2 linked regions of the Homo sapiens genome follow. The protein of the gene in region 1 purifies or fractionates together with the protein of each later gene. This does not show direct contact. Each region holds a gene or a part of one and is shown on either strand. Other genes may lie near its edges. The genes, in order: TLR6 and CD36.

Evidence for each region.
Region 2: the proteins of TLR6 (region 1) and CD36 purify together in Homo sapiens (co-immunoprecipitation; one study listed by IntAct). This does not show direct contact.

The regions. Positions count from the first base shown.
Region 1 is NC_000004.12:38,853,968-38,858,473, reverse strand, and holds the start of TLR6 (toll-like receptor 6 precursor), read left to right. Parts: upstream 1-1,656; 5' UTR 1,657-1,713; intron 1,714-4,506. UniProt on the Homo sapiens protein: Participates in the innate immune response to Gram-positive bacteria and fungi. Specifically recognizes diacylated and, to a lesser extent, triacylated lipopeptides.
Region 2 is NC_000007.14:80,662,409-80,666,234, forward strand, and holds part of CD36 (platelet glycoprotein 4), read left to right. Parts: intron 1-564; exon of another isoform or gene 565-581; coding exon 582-761; intron 762-1,997; coding exon 1,998-2,089; intron 2,090-3,826.

The sequences.
Region 1 (4,506 bases):
TGCTGGGATTACAGGCATGAGACATCGTGCCCAGCCTGCACCTTGATTTTCTTCACTTCATAGTATATCCTGAAATCTTTACCCCTCAGCATACAAAAAAACTATATGATTTGCACCAAACTCCTTACTATTATGACTTCTCTTCTGTGTCAGTCACTATTCCAGCCACTTTAAATTCATTATCTTTCCTAAAAGTACTCCCATTTTGTGGATGAATAAATGGAGGTTAAGGGACTTGTCCCAAGCCTCACAGTAAGTGGCCAAGTGGAGGTTCGGCCCAGTACTGTCTGTTTCTTTGTTTGCTTAACTGTCATTGCCATCTTCGCTATTACTTGATTTTTGTGTTTTTGTCATCCCCTTACAGACGTTTCTGAGTTATGACAGCCTCGACAAGAATAGTCTCCTTGTTTCTGAACATTGGTGTTGTGATGCAATCTCCTAATGAGACATGTCAATGTGCCCAGATCTGCAGTGATAGTTGTCTGTTTTCTTAAGACTTTAGTCCACGGTTACTTGAAATTCCCTCAGAGCCACAGCCAGCCCTTTCCCTTGGCTTGTTTCACAAATCTGGTTTTCCAGGGTCACAGATACCTGCTGCTTTCTGGCTGTCTCCTTTTGCCAGTGGAGCAGAGATCCATCCACTCCTTACTGAGCCTCCCCAGGCCTGAGGAGACTTCCTGTTATGTTTGATGAGTAAGGATGAATCACAAGAAGCCAGCCTTTCTCTTCCTCCTGAAAGCAGAAGTGATTCTTACGGAGATGTCCAACTTTGTCATTAGCCAAATTGTAAGGTCTTAACTTGTTGTTGTTTTTTTTTTAATAAAGATGAGATTGTGCCAGACAGTGAGATAAATTATAGAATGATTGTTTCACTCATGCCTTCTGTCCTTTGCAGAACTCAGTTAAGCAAGAAGTCTGGGGAAAAGGGTTTACTGTCCACCAGAAGTCTCTGTTTAACCAGAGACTTCTGGTAATCAGCCTTTGTTGATGTCATTCTGAAATTCTTCTAAATGGTCTTTAGAAAATTGATTTTTAAATTAGTCTTGCAGGATTTCAGTGTTATTTATTATTCCTAAATTAAAATCTAAACCATTTAATAACACCAAATGTTGATCAGAATGTGGGTATGATTGCTCGTACATATGGCTAAATATGTAGTCATAAATATGTATCAACCAGTAAACTTTCCTTAGAAGTTGATTTTTAAAAAAAAACCCAAATTGTGGAACTATACTTATTTTATTTTAAACTATCTCATCCAGCTAAAATAATGCTCAAAATTGCTTGATAAGGGAAACTGCAATTATTCTTGAAATGTTAAATATGGTGATAATAGAAAACAGGCTGTTTAAAATAACTTTCCACTCAGGTGACAAATGTAATAACCAGGCTGCAAACTCTTACAGAGAAATATTACCTTAGAAAAATATTTTTCTTCACATTGAATTGTTTGTAAGTTGCTTCCTCACACGAATTAGAAAATTGGATTACTGGTTTTGTCTGTAGCCCAGAAAAAACTGCTAACTCACCTCCGGACCTTTGAAAGGTAAAAATATACGTAGGAGTAATTCCAGTGTGGGCCAACAGATGGCACCAATCTGTTTCTAAGGTACCGCTTTACTCAACTTTAAGAACTTGTGTTTGTCAAGCATTTTCAATTGTATTTCCGTTCATTTACAAGTTATTTTCTCTTCTTCTGAAAAAGAGATCTTGGTAAGTAGAAAGACTTCTGTGGCTTTTTCACATTATGGCACAGGTGCTTCAAGTAAGCAAGTTTGCTAACCATTCATTATATAGGAAATAGGTAATGTTTCCTTGAAATTTTTGCAAAATGATTTGAAGTGGTTTTTTTTGTAGATGTTGCAAATGTCCTTTGAATTTCACGAGCAGGATGAAGAGCAGCGTCTTTACAGCTGTCTTGAAAAGATAGAAAACAACTAGCGCTTGTGGTGATAATTAAGGAACAAAACTAATGTTATTTATTTCTTCTGATTTGGCCCAGCGAATTTTCTCTTTTCGTCTTTCTCTAGTTTATTGTTTTCAGTAACATTTAACAGTAATTTTTATATACCACTGATATGGCACCTATTTATTATATGTTTTTACAGCAGACGTGTGTTTGATCTCCCTTGTCGTTTGTCACTGTAACAGTTTGCTGGTCTGTGTCTGTCCCTAATTCATAAGCTTTTTGAAAGCAGGAATTATGTCAGTCCTATTCATATTTATATCCCTGGTGCCTAGTGCGTAGCATGGCACTGGCAGAAAAATAGACTCTGAATAAACATTTATTAAATGGAGGAAGTGGCCGGGACCAAGCCCCTTCACAAGCTTGAATCTGGCACAGTGTAGCAATTGCCTTCCTCCAGGTCCTTCCACCTTCAGTTTGACAAATGAAACAATGTTTTTCTTGCCTATTTGTTAACTTGATTATGTGATCTTTCCTCCACTTATTTCACTTAATTTTTTTTCTGCTCTCTTCTTCCTTGTAGTTTTAATTTTCATAGGTCTTGTCTACCCTTTTTTTCTGAAATGTAGCTTATTTCATCTATTTCCTCACCCTTTTTATTTGATGCATTTAAAAAATCAAGAGCATTTACCTGTTTATTTTTACTTTCTTTAAAAAACTGTGAACTCTCTAATCTTCCACTCTCATCTTCCCATTTTTCCCTCCTTTTTTCCCAATAAATAGAAAAGTTACTATCTTGTTCATTTAGTGTATTCCCTAGGAACTGCCTCAGGGTATGAACGCCTCTGGAGGAATATTGCGTTTTTGTGGCAGGATACCATAAGGACAGCTGACCAGCTTTTCCACCTGGTGACTGATTTTCAGTCCCATGAACCCAGACACCGTGGGTCTGGTTGCCGGGGACCTGTAGGGTAGGTCCTCATCTGTGAATGCCAGTTATCTACTATTATCTGAAAGTTCTCCATCTTTATATTTTAATATTCCAAATAAAACAAGCACGTTTCTTTAAATATAAAATATTTTCACACAGCTATAAAGACAACTCTTAAATTGCCTTACGATAACTTTTTTGGATTATAAAGGACATTCAAAATGAGACATTTTAGGGATATCTGAAAGTATAAGAAAGAAAATTAAATTCATCTATAATTCAGAGATTCAGAGAACCACTATTATTAGTATTTGGTATATTTCATCACATTGTTTGTCCTCTAGCTTTTACGTATATGTCAGGTTTTAATCATATTTTGCAAAATTAGAGTCTTACTACATATATAATTTTTTTTTTTTTTTTTTGAGACGGAGTCTTGCTCTGTCGCCCAGGCTGGAGTGCAGCGGCACGATCTCGGCTCACTGCAAGCTCCGCCTCCCGGGTTCACGCCATTCTCCTGCCTCAGCCTCCCGAGTAGCTGGGACTACAGGCGCCCGCCACCACGCCCGGCTAATTTTTTTGTATTTTTTTTTAGTAGAGACGGGGTTTCACCGTTAGCCAGGATGGTCTCGATCTCCTGACCTCGTGATCCACCCGCCTTGGCCTCCCAAAGTGCTGGGATGAGAGGCGTGAGCCACTGCGCCCGGCCATAATTTTCTATTACTGTATTCATTTAACATTATCATTTTTTCAAAGTACAGTATTTGAGGCTATTATTTAATTATACATAACTGATTTAATCATTTTCTACACTAGACATTCTGATTTTTTCAATATTTCATTATGTCATGAGTATCCTTATAGTCATATCTTCTGTGTGTTATTTTTGACTATTTCTTTAGAAAATTCCTTGTAGTGGAATTGCTAAAATAAAGGAAGGTATATTTTTAAGAAATTTATGTAAATTACCAAATTACCCTTTAGAAAGCTTGTACTAATTTTTCATTCCTGCCTAAGTAGTAAATGAGGGTTCTTATTTTAGTTTCCACCTACCAACCTGGATATTATATTTTTTAATTTTCCCTATTTGATAGGTGAAAAAAAAATCTTGCCTTTTAAAAAATCTTTTAAGAAACAAGAGTCCTCCTTTGACCCCCTTCCTCTTTTTATGCTTAAATATCTTATAGTAAAAATAACAGGCATTCTGGAAACCTATTTCTAAAAGCTTTATTCTCTATCTCTAAAAAAATTACATTTTCCTAAAATAGCCAAATAACATTATAAAAAATTACAATTTATTTCTTAATAGCATCTAATGGCTGGTCCATCATAGAATCTGCCCCTCCTTCTGTTACTGAATATGTTTTATAGCAAGTCTGTCTTAACTGAGATCTAATCCAAGATCATGAGTTTCATCTAGATGTTATGTGCTTTTTTGATTTAACGTGCTGTTTTATTTTTTGTGAGATTGCACATTATTCATATTATTGGCAATTGATTTTTGGCAAATTATTCAGTAAATAGTACAGTAAACTTAATTTTGAATGTTAAAAGTTTGAAAAATATAGATAAAAACTAAGAGGAAAATAAAGTTCCATTATAATCTTACTGTGCAAAGATAATTACTGTTCATATCTTGGTATGTATCTTATTAATTTTTCTACTTGCA
Region 2 (3,826 bases), on another chromosome or scaffold:
CTGAGACCTGTTGGAGCTTGTGGCCAGCATTTCATCCGCACCATTGGTCAGGTCACTGGCAGAGAGCCTCGTGCCGTTAGACGTGGAACCTGCCGTTGTGATGAACACGCCTGCAACAATTGTCTGCGCCATTTCTGTCACGTGTGGCTCCAGCGCCTTTGGGACCAGACTTATGGCTTTTTTTTTTTTTAAGTTCTGGGATACATGTGCTGAATGTGCAGGATTGTTACATAGGTATACATGTGCCATGGTGCTTTGCTGCACCTATCAAACCATCATCTAGGTTTTAAGCCCCGTATGCCTTAATGCATTAGATATTTGAGAAGACCACTTTAAGTGTATCGTTAAATAAATAGAGCTTAACTTGGAATGTCGTCTTCTTGTGGCTGGCACTGAGGCAAAGAAATGTAATCATCTAGGAATTAGACGAATTGCATTTTGAGTTTTGGCAGGATCTGGCAGTAATTTTAAAGATAAGCTTTAAAAAGTTTTGTATTAAGCTCAATATTAGCATTTAATCCATTTATTTGTTAAAATCTAATATTGTATTCTTGTCTTAAACAGTGACTTTGTTTTTGTAGGCTGCATCCCATATCTATCAAAATCAATTTGTTCAAATGATCCTCAATTCACTTATTAACAAGTCAAAATCTTCTATGTTCCAAGTCAGAACTTTGAGAGAACTGTTATGGGGCTATAGGGATCCATTTTTGAGTTTGGTTCCGTACCCTGTTACTACCACAGTTGGTCTGTTTTATCCTGTAAGTACCAAATATGAATGGCAATATTATTACATTTTAATTTAATTAATTCAATGGCATTGGCAAGGCATAATTTTATAATTTAGCTCATTAGTCTTATTGCTGATCTGGAGACATATATCCTAACTTTTTAAAAAGTCCACTTCTCATTATAGCTTCAGCTTTCCTAGTTGGGAAATTCATCTGAATTTAACAATTAAATTTAAACCTGAAGAATAGATTTAATAAGGTTTCTACTCATTTATAAATACACAATTTTTTTTAAATTAGCCGGTAAGCTAGTCTGTAAATCTTTGAGCACTGTTTTTGGCTTTTATTTCCCTATTCACATAATCAAGTTTAATACCATATTTTTATTTGTTTTAAATATACTCCTCATTCCTCCTTTTCTAGACCTCTTACAATTTTAATTTATATTTAAAAGTTAGCCTAATGTTCACATCTCAATACTGATAAGGTAATAGACTTCATTTTAATGGGATTTGTAAATAAGAATTTTTAGTAGTCCATAATGTCATGAAATGGCAGCTTGAAGATTAAGGAAAATGTGAACTTGATGGTGTACTTGATTACCGCTTAATGTTTTGAATTACAAATAGGATAAGCTAACTACTGAATTGGAAGTTGGACTATGACTTCATTTGGCACTATATGTGAATATTATGTTCTCTAGTTCATTGTTTTACTTTTAGATACTGTTAGGATTACAAGGTTATATATCAATTATAAATGAATGTAGAAAGCCATAATGAATCAAATTCATTCTGATTTTAACTCAATACTCATAGCTCTTTCTTTGGCTAATGCTTTAACTTTTGGATGTCTAATTTTTATCATTTTAGTAACCACTTATTATCATTTTAGTAACCACTTATTAATGACTGTAACATTTAGAATACCCCTAGAAATCATTGTTCTTATAGGTTTGTTCAATGTCCCTCACCTCAACATAGTAAGAATAGTGATCAAAATGCCCTCATTGGCTTAATTATGACAGAGTGCTAGAGTTCACATCATGTCAGCTTCTGATATGTATCTTCTTTGTCACAGCATCTAGCACTTATTTCTAGGCACCTTTCACAATTTTTAAGGCCAATAATTTAAAAAAATGTATTGCAGATGTATTTCAAGTCATTTGAGTAACCAGTGATTGAGAAATGTGAAAGTGAGTTATGTATTGTACAACTTTGAAAAAATGACTTGTAGAAGTAACATTTTCCCATACATATATTTCAGTACAACAATACTGCAGATGGAGTTTATAAAGTTTTCAATGGAAAAGATAACATAAGTAAAGTTGCCATAATCGACACATATAAAGGTAAAAGGTAAGTATTCTGGTAAAATGTGCATGTATGTTACTAGGGTACTCTTAAGCAGGAATAGTATTCATTTAACATCTCATAAGACATAGGCATCAACCTATAGAACAGACCTGGTTATAATTCAGCTCTGGAAACTCCTGTTCTGCTAGGTATTAACTCTTTAGTTGTGGTAACTGGTGAGTTCACACCAGTGCATAGCTGCTGACTATCAGCTCCACTTTAAGGTTTGGTTCACCTTTCTGCACAGGTTATGGTTGTGTTACATAAATCCCCAAAGGGACTATTTTTTCATCTCTGCTACTTATCCAGCATTACAGTATAATTATTCTTACAATTAGATAACCATAAATGAAAAGGTAAAAAAAAAAAAAACAACACATCAACTGATTGTGTAGTAGATGGAAACTTTTTTTTTACTTTTTAAATCGAGCATATCGAATTCCATATTCCAGTGGCATGACCTAAATGTGTCTATAAAGATGGAAGCTTAATGAATCCAGGCAACTGCTTTCATGACCTTCCCCCTGCAAATAGTCTTTAATAATTTTCCATATTGATAACTCAGCTTTTTTAACTTTATCAATGCAAAAATAGAATGAATATTTCAAGTGCAGTTCTACAATGTAAATACAAAATGTGAAAATGAAGACTTTGCCAACTTTAAAGTGGTAAAATAACAAATCAGCTTCCTAAGCCATTATTTCCTTTTTTTTTTTCTAGCTCCAGCCTATTCACCTAAAGAATTTATAATTTATCATATATGTAAACTAGGAAGAACCCTAATAAATATCAGAGGAACAAGCTTTCTTCTCCATAAAATTAACAATTGTGTGTTTGACTAGTTTTTTTCTGAAAAAGAATAAAGTGATCAAAACCAAAAGAGATGAAATGTTTTTATTAATATAAAGTAACCCCTACCTCAAACTGAGTCTATCTAATGATTGCTTTTAACAGCTAAATATTACTAGTGGAGTACTTTTTCTTCTAAAGAGTCCACAGTTACATATTTTTATAGAAAAAGTCAGTAGAGGGAAAAAAACACTTCTAAGTATTCACTTAAAAGGAAATCACAGCAATTTTTTATATTGAGAAATAACGAGCATTTCACTCTAATATTACAGAGAGATGTGGAGGGGAGTTGCAAAGCACTCCTAGTTAGAGTAAGAATTTCACATCATTTTAAGATTGTAAGGTTGATTTAACTCATGGCAAGACTGAACATGATTAACCACTTATTTTGTTTAAGCAATGGCTTGTCTTGACATGTCACTGTCAGGAGTGGAAAAAAAGTTTTTCCATCACCAAAAAGTGAGGATGCAGGGAAACTATTACTATTGTTTTTATCACTTCCAGATATATATAGCTTATTTAGACAGCAAAGTATAAGTTAGTAAACTCTTTCCTACTTTAACGCCAGTCCATGGGAGAATTAAAGGGAGGAAGGGGCAAGAATATAAATTAATCATCTACATGTTTTGAATGTTTGCTGATCCAAACATCTGCTTCTTTCCTCTTCCCTGCTTCTCTCTTCTGCCTGCCTTGTACTTAGCTTATATCAGTTACCCACTTAACACTTTCCTTCTATTCATTCTGAACACTTATACTACTGAGTAATTCATGTATCCCATTGGAAAAAAAAAAATTTCCCCTAAGTAGAGATCTAAGTTTCTGATAAATGTTTTTAATTTTTTTCTTATTCCAAGATGTTTCTAATTAACACCTGGCAGTTTTTATTTTATG